Linked DNA regions of Homo sapiens. The protein of the gene in region 4 purifies or fractionates together with the protein of the main gene of each other region. This does not show direct contact. Each region holds a gene or a part of one and is shown on either strand. Other genes may lie near its edges.

What was found.
Region 1: the proteins of GDPD1 (region 4) and CFB purify together in Homo sapiens (affinity purification with mass spectrometry; 3 studies listed by BioGRID and IntAct, with this or other methods). This does not show direct contact.
Region 2: the proteins of GDPD1 (region 4) and A2M purify together in Homo sapiens (affinity purification with mass spectrometry; 3 studies listed by BioGRID and IntAct, with this or other methods). This does not show direct contact.
Region 3: the proteins of GDPD1 (region 4) and APOA4 purify together in Homo sapiens (affinity purification with mass spectrometry; 3 studies listed by BioGRID and IntAct, with this or other methods). This does not show direct contact.

The regions. Positions count from the first base shown.
Region 1 is NC_000006.12:31,944,461-31,949,555, reverse strand, and holds the start of CFB (complement factor B preproprotein), read right to left. Parts: upstream 3,462-5,095; 5' UTR 3,335-3,461; coding exon 3,271-3,334; intron 3,184-3,270; coding exon 2,950-3,183; intron 2,550-2,949; coding exon 2,364-2,549; intron 2,209-2,363; coding exon 2,035-2,208; intron 1,815-2,034; coding exon 1,713-1,814; intron 1,612-1,712; coding exon 1,475-1,611; intron 1,183-1,474; coding exon 1,044-1,182; intron 727-1,043; coding exon 595-726; intron 314-594; coding exon 212-313; intron 137-211; coding exon 1-136. Other genes in the region: complement C2 isoform 1 preproprotein, read right to left, coding at 4,199-4,378, 4,527-4,576, 4,703-4,829.
Region 2 is NC_000012.12:9,101,759-9,106,341, reverse strand, and holds part of A2M (alpha-2-macroglobulin isoform a precursor), read left to right. Parts: coding exon 1-106; intron 107-1,941; coding exon 1,942-2,103; intron 2,104-4,583. UniProt on the Homo sapiens protein: Is able to inhibit all four classes of proteinases by a unique 'trapping' mechanism. This protein has a peptide stretch, called the 'bait region' which contains specific cleavage sites for different proteinases.
Region 3 is NC_000011.10:116,819,844-116,825,199, reverse strand, and holds APOA4 (apolipoprotein A-IV precursor), read left to right. Parts: upstream 1-1,895; 5' UTR 1,896-2,008; coding exon 2,009-2,057; intron 2,058-2,414; coding exon 2,415-2,541; intron 2,542-3,318; coding exon 3,319-4,333; 3' UTR 4,334-4,500; downstream 4,501-5,356. UniProt on the Homo sapiens protein: May have a role in chylomicrons and VLDL secretion and catabolism. Required for efficient activation of lipoprotein lipase by ApoC-II; potent activator of LCAT. Apoa-IV is a major component of HDL and chylomicrons.
Region 4 is NC_000017.11:59,254,520-59,259,102, reverse strand, and holds part of GDPD1 (lysophospholipase D GDPD1), read right to left. Parts: intron 4,497-4,583; exon of another isoform or gene 4,268-4,496; coding exon of another isoform or gene 4,180-4,267; intron 1,982-4,179; coding exon 1,863-1,981; intron 1,353-1,862; coding exon 1,263-1,352; intron 1-1,262. UniProt on the Homo sapiens protein: Hydrolyzes lysoglycerophospholipids to produce lysophosphatidic acid (LPA) and the corresponding amines. Shows a preference for 1-O-alkyl-sn-glycero-3-phosphocholine (lyso-PAF), lysophosphatidylethanolamine (lyso-PE) and lysophosphatidylcholine (lyso-PC).

The sequences.
Region 1 (5,095 bases), on a different chromosome or scaffold from region 4:
ATCATTTGGTAGAAAACATCTTCCAGGTTTTCCATATCCTTGACTTTGAACACATGTTGCTCATTGTCTTTCTTGGAAGCCAAAGCATTGATGTTCACTTGGTTCACCAAAGGCCCGACCCCAAACACATAGACATCTGAGGGATAAAAAGGAAGGATGAGGGTCCAAGCCCTGAGGAAGTGGGGTGCTGGGTCCTAGGCAGGTTACTCACCCAGATAATCCTCCCTTGGGTTTTTGCGATCCTTGCCAATGTATAGCAAGTCCCGGATCTCATCAATGACAGTAATTGGGTCCCCGCCCATGTTGTGCAATCCTGCAGAAGAGACAGGACCATGAGGGTAGGAGATAAGGAAGATAAACTGGCTAAAGGCAGGGATACACATGGCAGGGTGAGCAAGTTGAGGAAGGGTTAGAGATAGTTGATCACAGGGCTTAGGAAGAATTCCTTATGAAGGGTCACAGGAGAGATGAACAGCCAGCTATGAGTCACATTCAGGGCCCCAACCATGGGTATAGTGTTACAAGTGGACTTAAGGGCCACATGCTGGTCTGAGAAGGTGGGGAGGCTGGGACAGGAGAGAGGTCCCTTCTGACCATCAGTCATGAGGATGATGACATGGCGGGTGCGGTTCCAGCCTTCAGGAGGGACGTCATCTGGCCAGCTCATCATGCTGTACACTGCCTGGAGGGCCTTCTTGGTGTTAGTCCCTGACTTCAACTTGTGGTCTGTGGAGAGGGAAGAGACCATCACCTCACCTGGTCTTCCAAGCCATCTTTTAACCCCAGAGACCAATCTGCAACTGAAATCCCACATCTTTCAACTTTTTAAGTTAATCATCATTACACGGACTTCCCTTTGACCACAAAGTGGCCCTTCCAGCCCCCAACAGGTTCCCACTAACCTCCATTGCCCAACGATCCTGCTGTTCAACTTTTGACTACAAAGTGGTCCTCCCTGTCGCCCTCAAGGTAGTCTCATGACCCCCTCCACCCTGAACCTCCTGACCCCAAAGTGAACCTCCCACCATTCCCTAACCTCTGACCTTCATAATTGATTTCATTGAGCTGCTTCGTGACCCAGTCTGCATTACTGCTGTCTGCTTCAGACACTTTGACCCAAATTTTGGGGTATGTGGCATATGTCACTAGACCATATCTTGGCTTCACACCATAACTTGCCACCTGTGGGTGAGGAGAACAAGGCGCCATGGCATTGAAAATAGAATACTGTGATTGGGAGATTTCAGCGACTTTGCTGGGACAGGGAGGCTCTCAGTAAGAGGCTCAAGGGCTGAGGTTCATGGAGGAATTACCAGTCAAGAAACTGCTTCAAGTAAAAGGGAAGGAGGACAGAATAGGACCTGGAGATTTTCCTGGGGCCCTGTTGTTCAGAGGGGCTGGAATGATCAGGGAGCTAGTCCTGGAAGATCAGCGAGATTCCATTCCCCCGAGTTCAGGGATAGGAGGATTCCACCTTCTCAATTAAGTTGACTAGACACTTTTTGGCTCCTGTGAAGTTGCTGGCCCCAATGCTGTCTGATCCATCTAGCACCAGGTAGATGTTCATGGAGCCTGAAGGGTCCAGGACGATCTTCCGCTTCTGTTGTTCCCCTGGGTGCCAGGAGAGTGGCTCAGGCTCCAGCATTAACAGTTCTGTCCCTTCTCCATTTTCCCCCAGTTCCCTGCCCTGCCTCCCTTCTCTGTCTTCAAACCTGGGCCGTGCCCATCCTCAGCATCGACTCCTTCTATGGTCTCTGTCAGGGAAGACAGGAAAGCTTCGGCCACCTCTTGAGGGGTGTCGTACATGAAGGAGTCTGGGAGAGTCAGAAATGAGGTCAAATGTCTGGGAGTGTCAGGGATACAGTGACCAAAGAGACGGGGGATCATGGGTTTCCAGGGTATAAAAGGCTCAGAAGTGAGATAGTTGTACAGGGAGGTTTAAACAAAGTGAGGAAAGAGCAGGGTTGAGGTGGGGAGAGAAGACAGTAGGATGGAAGACCAGGATCTGACCTGGGGGTACAGGTCAAAGGTCACCTTGGCAGGAAGGCTCCGTCCCGCTCCAAGAGCCACCTTCCTGACACGTTCGCCGCTGGGAGCCACGCAGGGTAAGCCCCCGGCTGCAGTGGTAGGTGACGCTGTCTTCAAGGCGGTACTGGCTGCCCACCTTCCTTGTGCCAATGGGGATGCCCGGGTTGGAGCAGTACCCCGCTGCAGAGGTATGAGACATCGAGGTAAGCACTGAAGCCTGAGGCCCCGTGAGCAAGGTAGAGAGCAAGAGTTACAGTGTCCGGAGCCGAGTGCCCACTCCTCGGGCTGGGCGCCGTCAGGGAGACAGCAATGTAGGGGGAGGGGATGCTTCTCACCTCCGTTGTCACAGATCGCTGTCTGCCCACTCCATCGGCCATTCACTTGGCAGGTGCGATTGGCAGAGCCCCGGAGAGTGTAACCGTCATAGCAGTGGAAAGAGATCTCATCACTCACATTGTAGTAGGGAGACCGGGGCCAGTATTCCCCGTTCTCGAAGTCGTGTGGTCTTGGACAGTGGATTGCTTTGAGAAGGGGGGACAAGTAGAAGTCATCAAGAGGGAAAGGCTGCCTTAGGTGTATCCCTCCTGGTCTCGGAGACCATGTCACTGAGAAACAGCGCATTCCCAGTCCCGCAGAAGCAGCATCTTACCTACTCCTCAACCCATATGGATTTCCACTGCTTCTCCCTCCCCATTTCTGAGTGTTCTCTTGACTTCCAGGGCTGCCTGGAAGCCCAGGGTAAATGCTTAGTAAGGGTTAACTCCGCTTTTTCTTGCCCCCTTTCCGCCTGCCACCCTAAAACTGCTCCTACTCCCGGTCAGCCCACCTTGTCACCCTGCCTAGTCTCATCCTAGTCCTGACCTTGCTGCCGCCTGCCCTGTTTCTGCCTTAGGCCACTGCCCACACTCATTGCCCTCAAACCTCTGCACTCTGCCTTCCTGACAGTCTTTTGGTCTTGAGTCTTCAGGGTGCTCCAGGACCCCGTAGATCTGCAGGTACGTGTCTGCACAGGGTACGGGTAGAAGCCAGAAGGACACACGTACTCCAGTGCCTGGCCCTCTTGGAGAAGTCGGAAGGAGCCGCCTTTGATCTCTACCCCCTCCAGAGAGCAGGATCCCTGGGGCCGGGCCAAAGACCATGGAGTGGTGGTCACACCTGAAGAGAAAGGCTGATGAAGCCTGGCCCCAAAAGGCCAAGGAGGGATGCTGGAGACAGCAGGAAGGGAAGGTTACCCTCGCTTACCTCCAGACAAGAGGCCCAAGATAAAGGGCATCAGGCAGAGTTGGGGGCTGAGATTGCTCCCCATGGCGTTGGAAGGCAGGAGAGAAGCTGGGCCTGGGGCAGGATGGTGTGTCCTGGCTTGCTTTGCTTGTCTGCTTGGCTCAGTGTCCAAGCTGAAACTCCAGACCTAGACCTGGTCACATTCCCTTCCCCTGCTCCCCACCAGCCCCCAGCCTTTTATACAATCTGTGTTCTGGCACCTGCGGCTCGCCCCGCCTGTCCTACCCACATCACTTTCCCGGAACATCCAAGCGGGAGGGCCCCGCTGAGCTGCCAGTCAAGGAAACAGAAACTGCAGAAGTCCCACCCTTTGCTGCCAAAGGTCCAGGACTCTCCCCTTCAGTACCTCCTCTCCGGCCTTAGCTCCTCCCCAGTAAGCCCAAACCACCCACTTAGGGACCAGAAATAAGGATCCAGCTCACTCCCCTGTTGATTGTGTGTTATGGTGCAGAGTCCAGCCACTGTTTGTCCAGTGGGGTCTCTGACCTGCCTTCCTGTAGCTCTTGGAGTCATTCTGGCCTCCCCCTCCCCCAAGGCCAGCCCTACCTGGCCTCCAGATAGAGGCACTGAGAGATGTGGAAACCATTGATTTTTATTAATTTCATAACTGGGAAATTCCATGTGAAAGTGAAACAAGCATGAGTCAAGTCAACCAGGGAAGGAATCTGGGGACAGGCCAAGGAGCGGGAGGTGGGGCAGCGAGGCAGTCCTGCTGGTAGGAGCCCTGAGGATTTCCCAGCTTGTGTGCGCTGCCTCTGGCATCCTAGAGACCCGGATTTACTCAGCTAGGAGAGAGGATGGATCACAGGGTCTAAGGGTGGCCATTCAGAGGTAGAAGATGGAGGGGCGGCAGATTCTGGCAGGGCAGCAGAGGGCTCAGTGGCCATGGCTAGAGGGGTAAAAAATTCAGGACATCCCCCAGGTGCTGCCTCAGCCAGGGCTGCATGCGGAAGAGATTGATGTGAAAGTCTCGTGGCGGCGGGACCTTGCTACGAGGGGCCCTTTTGCGGGAGTTTTTGTCAGCAGAGCCAAGGCAGGGGTTGTAAAGACCCCAGCTCACCAGACCCACCTGGAGAAAAGGAGAGAACTGGCTGGGAGGCTGCCACAGCCCCAACTGTAAGCCCCAACCTCCCTAGATCCCTCAAAGGCCTCCCTCATCCCCCCAACAAGGCTGAGATCCTGTAACCCCTGGGTCCTGCAAGCTTCTACCTTCTCACCTGAAAAAACCTGAATCTCCGCTCAAGGAAAACTGCTCCCCCAGATTCTCCTGCCAGCAAAGGGTGACAGGAGACAGTGTCATCTAGGGCAGTGGACTGGTGTTCTGGCATGCATGCTGGCCACAGAGACACAGGTGGCCTTCCCCTTGGGAATCCAGGCATGGTGAGGGACTCACCCTTGCAGGGACTCTCATCCTCCTGGGTCCCACTGCATAGGAACTGGTCTGTCACCACCTCCCTGACATCTGTCAAGTTGGGGAACATGGTTTTTTCTTGGGAGACAACCTCGGCACAGCTTGTCCACTGCAGCAGGGGTGGAACCAGAGAGAAGGGTAGAATAAGCAGACCCGGGTGGGTGCAGTGGCTCACGCCTGTAATCTCAGCACTTTGGGAGGTTGAGGCAGGCAGATCACTTGAGGTCAGGAGTTCAAGACCATCCTGGCCAACATGGCGAAATCCCGTCTCTACTAAAAATACAAAAATTAGCTGGTGTGGTGGTGGGCACCTGTAATCTCAGCTACTCGGGAGGCTGAAGTAGGAGAATCGCTTGAACCCAGGAGGCAGAAGTT
Region 2 (4,583 bases), on a different chromosome or scaffold from region 4:
GGAATTGACTGGAAGGCAGTCCAGTGAAATCACAAGAACCATAACCAAACTCTCATTTGTGAAAGTGGACTCACACTTTCGACAGGGAATTCCCTTCTTTGGGCAGGTGGAGTATTTTCCAGTTCACTCATCAACCCATGTACTGTTACCTAATTAGCACAATAGTTATGGTTTGTGCTAAAACCATGCCTGGTTAATGTTATCATTTAATATAACCAAAAGTATAAAATATCACCAAGGCTTGATTAGTATAACCAAAGGTATAAAACTACATAAAAATAGATTTATTCTTCTGTAAATTTGTGTATGAAATGTATGTAATTATCCTAAGGCCTTATTAAAATTAGTAGAGTTTTCCCCCCTTCTTTTGAAACAGCATTGTACAAGTCACTCAATCTCCTTCTCATGGTTTACCAGGCAGTCTCAGGTTTTTATGACATTTTCTCACAAGAATCTCAAAATTCATGCTGACCAGTTTCATTACGATGCTAACACTAACTTTGTATGGAAACAGGTGGGTAGGTGGTTTTAATTTTTATTTTGAAGTATTAAAGATTCTACAATAATGTTTATTTCATGGATAGTATATTTACACTATTTTTCTATAACAAGTATATTTCTAAAACAGTGAACATGGGGTAAAACACTGCTATTTAAGGTTCTCAGATTTTTGAATTATGAATTTTCATGTTATCTACCAAAAAAATCTTCTCTTACAATTTTTCTGTTGTCAGCAGATGTGCAAATGGATCTTTATGACTCTAGAAGTCTGAGATCACAGTTACATGTGCCTCAATGTGTATTTACTGTGTATCATTTTCTTAATGTAAATGTTACAGGATTTCAGCTATGAAGGGTGTAAAAGAGGCATAGACTCAACAAAGTGGAGTACATTCTAGAAGGCTTGGTTATGTCATGACACCAAAATGTATTCAACTTCCTAAAATGAAAGTGTAGCTCATTTGTAAATTTCTCAGAAAGATAGTGTACTTTGTAAGTACATTTTATTGCTGTTAAATATCCTATTTGTCATAAGACTCTCTAGCTAGAAGAAAATCAGAATTATGTGCCTATTCTTGTCTTTGTACATGCAGCCAACATTTCACTGGCAAACTTAGATTTTGTAAATCAATTATGAGTACTGATGGGGGTCAGCCTATTGTTCTTCCTGCTACCAACTGTAGCTTATACTGAAAAAGAATTGCCACCTTTACAATCTGAACTGGACTACTCAACTGCCAATACAATATTAGCAGTAAATTAGATTTGGCAACTTATTTAATACTGTGTGCCTCTTTTCAATTTTATATTTTTCACATGGGAAGTGTGTCATAAAATCTGCCTACCTTCCAAAAGGCTGAAGATCTAGGTTGAGAAGCAGAGACCATGTCTAAGGCAACTGGAGAAACACACAGGACAATGTATTGGCAATTGTTTACTTGTGCACTTATGAGACTTCAGACACTAATCTATAGGAAGTTAATGGTCCACTCCAAAATAGGTGTTTGGGGCACAAATAAATTTAGTTAATAGATTAATAGATTAAAATATTTCATTATCATATTACTCTAGTGCTCTGTGACTCTCTAAGAGTTATATATAATAATACACAGCACTTCCAAAATATCTAGAAGACATTTTTCAGGTCACTCTTGTTATTATCCCTATCACTCTCTATCCCTTCACACTGCTCTGTTTTTCTTCTTAGGATTGATTACTACTAAATTAGTGTATGTTATGTATATATTTATTTAGCATCTATCTCTTTCACTAGACAGTAAGCTCTGTGATGGAAGAAACTTCGTTTTTTTTCACTGCTGTGTCCTCAGTGCCTGGAACCATGTTCAACATAGAGGAGGCACTAAAAAATGTGATAAATGAATATGTTTGGTGCCTATTAGTTATTACCAATATAACTAATCCACAGCTTTTAATCTTCAGGTGCGCCTAGTAGATGGGAAAGGCGTCCCTATACCAAATAAAGTCATATTCATCAGAGGAAATGAAGCAAACTATTACTCCAATGCTACCACGGATGAGCATGGCCTTGTACAGTTCTCTATCAACACCACCAATGTTATGGGTACCTCTCTTACTGTTAGGGTAAGTTTGGAAAGAAATTACCAATGACATGAAGTAGCCTTGGAAACAAGGTTGCAACCTAAGGGTGAGAAAATTTCCAAACTGTGTCTAGTTCTATGGAGAGAAAAAAACTAGCAATTAGAAACCGATTGAAGGTTAACTTTTTTAAAGTTTATGAAAAGAAGGCAGTATATTGTGATTAAAAGTGCGGGTTAGACTTTAGCAGTGTTGCTGGGAACGTAAAATGGCGGAGCCACTATGAAAAACAGTATAGTAGTTCCTGAAAAAATTAAAAAATAGAATTACCAAATGATCCAGTAATCCTACTTCTGGACATATATTCAAAAGAATCGAAAACGGGGTCTCAAAGAGCTATTTGCACACCCGTGTTCATAGCCGCACTATTCACAATAGCTGAGAGATCGAGGCTACCCAAATGTCCATCAAGGGATGAACAGGTAAACAAAATGTGGTATATAAATACAACAGAATATTATGCAGCCTGAGAAGGGAAGAAAATCCTGTCACATGCTACAGCATGAATGATCCTTGAGGACGTTATGGTAAGTGAAATAAGCTAGTCACAAAAAGACCAATACTGTATGATTCACGTACATGGGGTTTCTAAAGTAGTCAAAGTCATAGAAACAGAAAACAGGATGGTGGTTGCCAAGGGCTAGGGAAAGAGAGAAATGGGGAATTCCTCTTATTGGTATTCAGGTTTAGTTTTACAAGATGAAAAGTTCTGGAGATCTGTTGCACAACAGATATACTTAATACTACCAAACTGTACACTAAAGAATAATGAAGATGGTAATTTTATGTTGTGTGTGTGTGTGTGTTTATAATAACTTTTTTGAAAAGTGTGAATTCCAGAATCTGAATCAGATAAAGTGGTTAAAAATACTGGCTCAACCCTATTTTAAGGAATTAACTAAAACCTCTGTGCTTCATTTCCTTATCTGTAAAATGATTGCAATACTAACACCTGACTCTTGGGGTGGTTGTGAAGATTAAGTGAAATCATACATGTTGAATCACTTAGTAAGCCCCCTTTAACTGTTAGATACTTTTACTATAAAAGCCAATTCTAACATAATTAGCATTTAGTTTTAAATATATATACTCCAAAAATTATTACCTTACTTTATTTTGTCTTGCTATTCTAATTTTCTCCAGATGACCTGTTCATACCAATATAAGTTATTCGGTATAGCATGCAGTCCTCTATTCATCAAGAGAGATGTAGACATGTCTATAGATACATGGATATACAATACATATTTAATATATATTACATAATCATGGTAATGGAAAACGCCTGCCTCTTTAGAGTTTTACCTTGTTATAGAGAAATAAATAATACATTTTATTTATTTAGCTTTAATAGATGGCATAAAAGCACCTCCCTCTAATTTGAATGTTTACTCATTTCAAAAAGTGTCTTGAATGCTTTCCACGTGCCAGCACTGTGCTAGTCTTGACAATGAAATTATTATTTCTACCTGTTCCCTGTTTGGGGTGATCATATATGTGTTGTCACCAAAATATACATTAAGATATGAACAAAATGTTTTGCTCAAGGATTCACTAGTGCTATTGGGAGCTGGGGATGAAGGTAGAGGAAGCCTGAAAGGAGCTAAGGAATAACTTCTACAGGAAGAAAAGTTGGAAATATAACCCAAATAGGGCCTCTGAGGTATTAGAATCCAGATTGCAGGGAGCATTAAAAATAGTCAGCCTAGGCCAGGCACGGTAGCTCACGCCTGTAATCCCAGCACTTTGGGAGGCTGAGGTGGGTGGATTGCGTGAGGCCAGGAGATCGAGACGAGCCTAGGCAACGTGGTGAAACCCTGTCTCTACAAAATATACAAAAAATTAGCTGGGTGGGGTGGCATGCACCTGTAGTCCTAGCAACTCAGGAGGCTGACTGGGAGGATCACTTGAGCCCCAGAGGCAGAGATTGCACTGAGCCAAGATTGTGCCACTGTACTCCAGCATGGGCGCCAGAGCAAAACCCTGTCTCAAAAAAATAATAATAATAGCAATCAGCCTAAGATAGCCCAGAAGAGGTAGACTTCAGCTAATTCATCAGCTCAGCTCTTAAACCAATGCTTTCTACCAATGTCTTCTCAGACCCCTAAGGTTACAATATTTTATTTATTCATAATACCCATTCAAAATCCACCCTAAAAGAGGCAGCTGCTTTCTGAAAGCACAGTTCTTCCATTTCTAGAGATTATTTACTCTCCTCAATGAAGTTTCATAGCTCCAGTGTCTCTAATTGCACAGGTAAAGCAGTCAAAGAAATTTCAAGCAAGCTAATCAGAGCAAAGGATGCCTCCTTTTATGCTCTTAAGAAATATAAATCTCAATCCCAGGAGGCTCTGCAGTGTAAAGTCACAAAGCATGCCTACATTTGAAGCAGAGAAACAAAATCAGGGGTCCTTCTCCCACTTTTCATTGTGGAACAAAAGATTTCTAGCTACTAGTTAAGGTAG
Region 3 (5,356 bases), on a different chromosome or scaffold from region 4:
CTGTGCCAGGAGCTCTATAGGCAGCCCTCTGTATCCTTGGTTTCTGTGTCCATGGATTCAACCAACCTTGGATTGAAAATAATTTTTTAGGCCGGGCGTGGTGGCTCACGCCTGTAATCTCAGCACTTTGGGAGGTTGAGGCGGGCGGATCACGAGGTCAGGAGATCGAGACCATCCTGGCTAACACGGCGAAACCCCATCTCTACTAAAAATACAAAAAAAAAAAAAAAAATTAGCCGGGCGTGGTGGCGGGCGCCTATGGTCCCAGCTACTTGGGAGGCTGAGGCAGGAGAATGGCGTGAACCCGGGAGGCAGAGCTTGCAGTGAGCCGAGATCGTGCCACTGCACTCCAGCCTGGGTGACAGAGCAAGACTCCATCTCAAAAAAAAAAAAAAAAAAAAAAATATATATATATATATATATATATTTTTTTTTTTAAATTGCATCTGTGGGCCGGGTGCAGTGGCTCATGCCTGTAAGCCCAGCATTTTAGGAGGCAGAGATTGGAGGATCACTTAAGGCCAGGAGTTGGAGACCAGCCTGAGCAACATAGCGACACCCCATCTCCATTAAAAACAATGTTTTAAAAAAATTGCATCTGGGCAGGGCGCAGTGGCTCACGCCTATAAGCCCAGCACTTTGGGAGGCCCACATGGGAGGATTGCTTGAGGCCAGGAGTTGGAGACCAGCCTGAGCAACATGGTGAAACCCCGTCTCTGCTGTAAATACACAAATTAGCTGGGCGTGGTGGTGGGTGCCTGTAATCCCAGCTACTCAGGAGGCTGAGGCAGGAGAATCACTTGAACCTGGGGGGCAGAGATTGCAGTGAGCTAAGATCGTGCCACTGCACTCCAGCCTGGGTGACAGAGTAAGACTCCATCTCAAAAAAAAAAAAAATTGCACCTGTACTAAACATATACAGACTTTTTTGGTGATTACCTCCTAAACAATACAGTATAACAACCATTCACACAGCATTTCCGTCGTATTAGGTATTATAAGTAATCTAGAGATTTAAAGTATGTGGGAGGCTGTGCTTAGGTTATATGCAAATACTATGCCATTTTATATCAAGGACTTGAACATCCATGGATTTTGGTATCTGCAGAGGGTCCTGGAATCAATTTCCCATGGAGACTGAGAGATGACCGTACTACCCACTTCGCAAGCAATGTCTTCTTTAATGTACTGAACCATCCCATTGTTCAGAGGAGAAACTGAAGCTCAGGGCTTTGAATAACTAGACCAAGGAGGCACAGCATGGGAGTGGGACATGAAGCACTCTACAATTAACCCTTTCAGGACAAGGCCCTGTCTCCCACACCCATCTGCCCAAAGGCTCTCCAGGGCCCCCTCCTCTTGGGTGTACCTTGACAAGAGACCTAGATTTTAGCTCACTATGCTGTCTGCAGTCCTGGATGGTCCCACTCCAGTGTCTGGTGCTCTGAGATGGAGTCAGCATTAGTGGCGGATGTGGAGACTGGGGGGACCTGTCTTCACTGGGGTAGACAGAGGAGATGTGGACTTTGCCCCCCATGAGCCCGGCACAAACCCAGAGCCGCCAGCAGGGCCTCGAGGCATCAGTCCCGGGCTCATGGGCTCCCTGAGGTGTTTCTCCTACTGTTTTCCGTTCCCCTCCTCCCTTCCATGCTGAGGTTGGTGGGGTGGGGGTGGGGGTGCCCACGCACGGAACAGCCACCACTTCTAACTATCGCCTGAGCCCTGATCTGCTGTCAGCTTCCACGTAGTCTCAGGGTCACAAAAGTCCAAGAGGCCTCTTGGGAATGTGTCACCTTCCAGCGTGGAGTCACACTGAGGAAGGAGGAGGGGAGGGCAGCCAGGGGGGTGGCGATAGGGAGAGAGTTTAAATGTCTGGCTGGCTCTGAGCTTCAGTCAGTTCCCACTGCAGCGCAGGTGAGCTCTCCTGAGGACCTCTCTGTCAGCTCCCCTGATTGTAGGGAGGATCCAGTGTGGCAAGAAACTCCTCCAGCCCAGCAAGCAGCTCAGGATGTTCCTGAAGGCCGTGGTCCTGACCCTGGCCCTGGTGGCTGTCGCCGGTGAGTAGAAGCTGTCTTTGGATGGCACTCCTGGGCTGCTGCTCTGAGTAGTGCAGGATGGAGGCTGAGCCAAAGCAAAAGGACACTTCTGAGTGCCCATCAGCCCCCAGCTGGACATGAGGTCTGCCTGGCTGCCAAGTGGCTCACAGGAGAGCTGGCCCAGTCCCAGTGGTGGGCCCATTGGCATTGGTGCTATACCAGTTTCACATATCCCTGTGGCTTCCAAAAAGCTAAGCTCAGACAGGGAAAATGGCAGGTTGAGGCACCCCCACCATCATCCAGTCTGCAGCTCAGAGCTGGAGCAGAGGGGCCACACAGGAGACGGGGCCTCATGAATTGCTCTCTGTTACCACCCAGGAGCCAGGGCTGAGGTCAGTGCTGACCAGGTGGCCACGGTGATGTGGGACTACTTCAGCCAGCTGAGCAACAATGCCAAGGAGGCCGTGGAACATCTCCAGAAATCTGAACTCACCCAGCAACTCAAGTAAGAGGGACTACAGTGTGCGGTGGTGACGGGGAATTCTTAAAGGCCATGCAATGTACTGGCAAGGGTTGAGCTTAGAGACAGGAGCCCTGAGCTTAGGATACCCACTGCCCTGCCACTAACTGGCCGGGCCTCTGAACCTAGGATCCACATATGTAAACCGGAAGTTTGGACCGAATAATCCCTGCCATGTCCTTTTGCTTTGACGTTCTAGAGTTTGACAAATGGCCACATCCTATCATTCAGGCTCATGGAAGAGAGGGAGGGAGGAAAATGTCACGTGAGCTGATTTCTAATACGTTTCAGAAAGACAGGCCCCAGTGGAATCAAGGGGAGGGAGGTGGGAATATTTGGGAGGCCCCTGGGCACAGGCAAGGAAAGCAGCACCTTGTGCCACTGGAAGACCCCAGCAGAGGTCAAGAAGACAACATTGTGTTACACAATGTGATCCTATGGCCCAGAACACTCCCTCTGGGAAGGACCTCAAAGTCCCACCCTCTGCAGACAAGGAGGGGAAAGCAAACTGCTGGAGGTGACATGGTGGGTAGATTCTGAGACAAACTATGTGGGAGATCCTGAGATAGAAATTCAGCATCGTAACTTAGTCTGTGACACCCATCCTCTCCAATCTGCACCACCATAGGGAGGGTGAACTCGGTACCTCTGAGCACTCACCTGTCCTAGCACGTGTGCATAAGGCGAGTGGTATACAAGCAGACAAAGTCTTGCCGTGTAAATGCCAAATGTAACGTGGCCTCCTTGTGCCCTTCCCCACAGTGCCCTCTTCCAGGACAAACTTGGAGAAGTGAACACTTACGCAGGTGACCTGCAGAAGAAGCTGGTGCCCTTTGCCACCGAGCTGCATGAACGCCTGGCCAAGGACTCGGAGAAACTGAAGGAGGAGATTGGGAAGGAGCTGGAGGAGCTGAGGGCCCGGCTGCTGCCCCATGCCAATGAGGTGAGCCAGAAGATCGGGGACAACCTGCGAGAGCTTCAGCAGCGCCTGGAGCCCTACGCGGACCAGCTGCGCACCCAGGTCAGCACGCAGGCCGAGCAGCTGCGGCGCCAGCTGACCCCCTACGCACAGCGCATGGAGAGAGTGCTGCGGGAGAACGCCGACAGCCTGCAGGCCTCGCTGAGGCCCCACGCCGACGAGCTCAAGGCCAAGATCGACCAGAACGTGGAGGAGCTCAAGGGACGCCTTACGCCCTACGCTGACGAATTCAAAGTCAAGATTGACCAGACCGTGGAGGAGCTGCGCCGCAGCCTGGCTCCCTATGCTCAGGACACGCAGGAGAAGCTCAACCACCAGCTTGAGGGCCTGACCTTCCAGATGAAGAAGAACGCCGAGGAGCTCAAGGCCAGGATCTCGGCCAGTGCCGAGGAGCTGCGGCAGAGGCTGGCGCCCTTGGCCGAGGACGTGCGTGGCAACCTGAGGGGCAACACCGAGGGGCTGCAGAAGTCACTGGCAGAGCTGGGTGGGCACCTGGACCAGCAGGTGGAGGAGTTCCGACGCCGGGTGGAGCCCTACGGGGAAAACTTCAACAAAGCCCTGGTGCAGCAGATGGAACAGCTCAGGCAGAAACTGGGCCCCCATGCGGGGGACGTGGAAGGCCACTTGAGCTTCCTGGAGAAGGACCTGAGGGACAAGGTCAACTCCTTCTTCAGCACCTTCAAGGAGAAAGAGAGCCAGGACAAGACTCTCTCCCTCCCTGAGCTGGAGCAACAGCAGGAACAGCAGCAGGAGCAGCAGCAGGAGCAGGTGCAGATGCTGGCCCCTTTGGAGAGCTGAGCTGCCCCTGGTGCACTGGCCCCACCCTCGTGGACACCTGCCCTGCCCTGCCACCTGTCTGTCTGTCTGTCCCAAAGAAGTTCTGGTATGAACTTGAGGACACATGTCCAGTGGGAGGTGAGACCACCTCTCAATATTCAATAAAGCTGCTGAGAATCTAGCCTCAACTGGTTGCCGGATGAATCCTCCTTGCAGCTGGGGAGGTGGGGAGGTAACCATGACTGGGCAGAGCTTAGCAGCGGCCTGGCAGGAGACACCCAGGATTGGGGAGATGAGACTGCAGGAGAGGTAAGGGCCTGGTGGACTGGAGGCGAGTACATGGGGAGTCCTCTAAGGGGAGGCAGAAAAAGATGTCACACATTATCCCAAGACAAAATATGCAACCTACTTATATTCATTTAGCCAACAAATATGCATTGAATGCCTCCGATGCGCCAGTCATTATTCTAGGCACCGGACAACCAGCAAACAGCTTTTGTGCAGCCATGTGCCCGACTCTGCCTCACACTGAGGGGGACACCTGGAGGCGAGCAGAACAGGGTCCCTGGCCCTGGGGGGCTCACAGTACACTGGGGGAGATGGTTCCTCCTTGCACGAGATCTTCAGTGCCTTTAACTTATTCATGTAGTGTCATTTAACCCACCCCACCCCAGTTCCATTATGAAAGCGATTCATGCTTATTTCAGAACTTTCTTGACTGCTAAACCTGTGGTCTCCATCCAGAATTGGGGATTGAGGCTTGGGGACCGAGACGAGTCTGGGGAGGAGGGGCAGAGCAGGTGCTGGAGCCTGCGGGGCCCTGGTCTGCTCTGTCCAGGGGCCTCCTGCCAGGTGGCCTGCCAGTTTGGGGCTGAGTTTGCAGCCACTGGGGTTAGGGGCAGAGAGTCAGGGGGCCTGAGCAGTCTCATCAGCACAGCCAGCTGTGGGCAGCTGCAGCCTTGGAGTGGTCTTTCACCCCACCCTTAGAGACTCGAAAACCTCACAAGGAAAGAGCCAGTTCAAGCGTTTGTCTCAAACGACTCC
Region 4 (4,583 bases):
GCTGGTCTCAAATTCCTGGCCTCAAGCAATCTTCACCCCTTAAATAATTTCTTTCTTAAAAAAAAAATAGGCACATGTTCTCAGGATCTCCTGAGGGCTGTGTTACAGGCAAAAGAAAATTAAAAATAATTAATAATAATAATAATAGAAAGGGGGTCTCACTATGTTGTCCAGGCTGGTCTCAAACACCTGGGCTCAAGCAATCCTCCCACTTTGGCCTCCCAAAGTGCTAGGATTACAGGCATGAGTCATCATGCCCAGCTAAATAATTTAACTCAAAATTACACACAAAAAATTTAATTACCTAACACAAGACAGTGATTAAAAGATAGAAACTGTATTTTTTCCTTTAATACACATAATGAAATATTGGTAAGCAACTAACATTAGCATGTGAAAATAATAATTCCTTGAACCAGTTCAACTGCATTGACCTTATATTGCTAGGTTCAAATCCATTATCTCTACTATATTAAACTTCTGGCTAGTTGCTTCCACCCAGTACCATCTACCTGTGTATGAAGGCTATGAAATAAGATAAGTGTTTGTTTGTTTTTTTTGAGACAGAGTCTTGCTCTGTTGCCCAGACTGGAGTGCAGTGGCATGATCTCAGCTCACTGCAACCTCTGCTTCCCGGGTTCAAGTGATTCTTCTGCCTCAGCCTCCTGAGTAGCTGGGACTACAGGCACGTGCCACCATGCCCAACTAATTTTTATATTTTCATAGAGACAGGGTTTCACCATATTGGCCAGGTTGGTCTCGAACTCCTGACCTTATGATCCACCTGCCTTGGCCTCCCAAAGTGCTGGGATTACAGGCGTGAGCCACTGCGCCCGGCCTGAAATAAGATGCTTTAAAAATTATTACTGTAATAAGGGCCAGGCACAATGGCTCACACCTGTAATCCCACCACTTTGGGAGGCCAAGGCAGGAGGATTGCTTGAGTCCAAGAGTTTGATACCAGAGTGGGCAATATAGTGAGACCTCATCTCTACTAAAGATTTAAAAATTAGCTGGGTGCAGTGGTGTGTGCCTGTAGTCCCAGCTACTTGAGAGGCTGAGGCAGGAGGATCACTTGAGCCCAGGAGTTTGAGGCTGCAGTGAGCTATGATTGCACCACTGCACTCCAGCCTGGGTGACAGGGTGAGACCCTATCTCTAAAAATAAGAAAAAGAAAAAAAATTATTACTATAATAACTTATCATTTGTAGATACAAAACAACAACAAAGATAGATAATTCTGTATCATTTTTGAAGCTTACCTCTTTGTAGCACTTTTCTACAATTTCATAATTGGCATTACCCCACACTGTTAAGTGTTCTCGATTATACCGCTTCACCAACTCTGAAACCTACGTGTGAAAATTCAAAATTTTATGCATGTGCCTATTTGCAAATCCACTAACAACATTTCACTTAAAAAATGAATTAGAATTGACTATCTGTGAATGAATAGCATAACTTTTGGAAGAATCAATATGTAAATTTAGAATATTTTATAAAATGCAAAATTTATTCACATTATATCATTATATAATTTATTTAACAGAATAGAGTTATTTAGTAATTTGACATAAACTAACCATGAATGAAACAAGTTAAACTAGAAGATAATTACATAAATGCCAGAATGATTGGTTCATACAACCTTATTTTATCCATGACATGCCAACTCTCTCTGAAAATAGGCTCTCTCCTACAGTAAAATGATCTCTTCTACTAAGGCATTATTTAAAACAATGCTGATCCCTAGGGTATCACATTTCCTTGAGCATTATCAATCTATGCAGTCACTGACTCTAACCTTATTTAGTTTGTGAAATAGGATGCAACACACCCAGAGGAGGCAATGCCTTGAGTACCTTCTTAATCAGCACATTGTTGTTGACTTTGATATCGATGTTAATGGGAGTGTTAGGAAAGGCCTCAAAAACTTCCTTCAGTAATGGAATTCGGTTATCTTTTCCTTCACACTGGCATGCTGAGAAAGCAAGATTTTTAAATGTATTTTTTAAATATAAGTTTTACTTTTTGATGACTAGAGAAGGTATTGTATATATTCATTAAAGGACATTTATAAAATAAGGAAAAGTATAGAGAAGAAAAAAATCATGTAAATCCAACAACTTAGATATAAATGCTATGACCATCTGGTGTACTTTCTCTACTCTTTTTTCCTATGCATGATTTAATATACTAATAATATGATGTGCTACAGATTTTAACTTGATATTTTCACATAAAAATAAATATTTTCCTGTTGATTTACTGTGCTTATGATTATGATTTATTAATTTTTTATTTTGAGATAACTACAGATTCACAATCAATTGTAAGAAATAATAGGGTCCATGTACCCTTTACCCAGATTTCCCAGTGGTAACCTTCTTGCAAATCTATAGTACAATATCACAACCATGATACTGACATTGATACAATCCACCGATCTGATTCTATCATAATTTTTTAAAAGATGTCAAAATACTCCATTGAGTAGCTATACAATAATTTATTTTAATTTAACCATTTCCCTACTAGTAGATACTGAGATTGTTTCTAAAGTTTTGCTATATCATCATTGACTTTTTCAGAGATTAAAAATAACATTCAGGCAAGGGAAGTATACACTAAATCAGTAATGTGTTGAAGAATTATATGAATGCAGTTATTCAAAGAAAATTCAAGTAATGAAAAAATTAGAAGGGGACTTTAATTGTTCTTTATATTTCCTGAGGATTATTTTCTTTAGTCTTTCTCTAGTCTCTTTTTTGTTTGTTTGTTTGTTTGAGACAGGGTCTCACTCTGTCGCCCAGACTGGAGTGCAGTGACACGATCTCAGCTCACTGCAACCTCTGCCTCCTGGGCCCAAGTGATCCTCCCACCTTGACCTCCTGAGTAGCTGGAACTACAGGAGCACCATCACGCTCGGCTAATTTTTTTGTAGTTTTTGTAGAGATGGGGTTTTGCATTTGGCCAGGCTGGTCTCAAAATCCTGAGCTCAAGTGATCTGCCCGCCTCGGCCTCCCGAAGTGCTGGGATTACAGGCATGAACCATGTACCCGGTCCCTTTTTTGTTGTTTTTTTGAGACAGGATCTTGCTCATAGCCAAGGCTGGAGTGCAGTAGCATGATGATGGCTCACTGCGGCCTCCCACACTCCAGCAATCCTCTGGCACTACAGGCATGCACCACCACGCCCATATATATATATGTGTGTGTGTGTGTGTGTATATATATATATATATACGTGTGTATATATATATATATATATACGCGTATATATATATACGCGTATATATATATATACATATATACGCGTATATATATATATATATATATATTTTTTTTTTTTTTTTTTTTGAGACGGAGTTTCGTTCTTGTTGCCCAGGCTGGAGTGCGATAGTGCGATCTCGGCTCACAGCAACCTCCGCCTCCCAGGTTCAAGTGATTCTCCTGCCTCAGCCTCCTAAGTAGCTGGGATTACAGGCGCCCGGCACCACACCTGGCTAATTTTTTGTATTTTTAGTAGAGGCAGGGTTTCACCATGTTGGCCAGGATGGTCTCAAACTCCTGGCGTTCGGTGATCCACCAGCCTTGGCCTCCCAAAGTGCTGGGATTACAAGCGTGAGCCACTGTGCCCGGCCTATTGTTTATTTTATTTTTTGTAGAGACAGGGTCTCACTGTATTTTGCCCAGGCTGGTCTTGAACTTCTGATCTCAAGCAAACCTCCTGCCTCAGCCTCCCTAAGTGCTGGGATTACAGGTGTGAGCCACCACACCTGGCTCTCTAGTCCCTTTTGACTCTAATTACTCTAATCATTTATATAATTTACTATACATACTATATAACTATTGTAAAAATTGTTCTGCTTCCGTCTGAACCTTCAATTCCACTAATCTGCAAATAACAAAATGGTGAAAATCCTTTATTCCGTCTTATTATATGGCAAATCAAAATAAAGATGCATTATCAAAAAGTAAATGAAATCCATGTCAGAAAATTAAATTATTTATAATTATACCCTGTGTGAAAAGCAGCATGTACATTAAAGGGGAAAAAAAGGAAAAGTCTGTTACTATACTTCTTGTAATTCTGATGGGGCTCTGGGTTACTCTGATGGGACTGTCAATCATTGGCTCTGCCTCTCTGACCACAGACTAAATATATGACCAGTCTAACCTGTTAAGCATAACAATATGGACACTGGGAGAGAAGCCTCTTGAAATCCTTTGCTGAACGGATCATGTACAAGCTGCCAAGAGTTCATCTCTGTGGAAAGGGTGTCCCTAAAAGCAAAGCTAACACAAATGAAAGCAAAAGCAAGAAACGGAGATAGAGAGAGACCAATTACTGCTTGAGCAACTGGAATCAGTCATGTCTGAGGGCATATAACCCCTGGACTTTCTAATTATGAAAACCAATATATTCATTTTTAATTTTTTTCTTAAGCTATCTTGAGATGTGCATCTAACACTTATAACTGAAAGAGTTTAAACTTATCATAGGCTACATAATTAAACTCTAAAAATTATGTTTATAGTAGATAGCTTATATATATATGTATATATATTTTGAGACAGGGT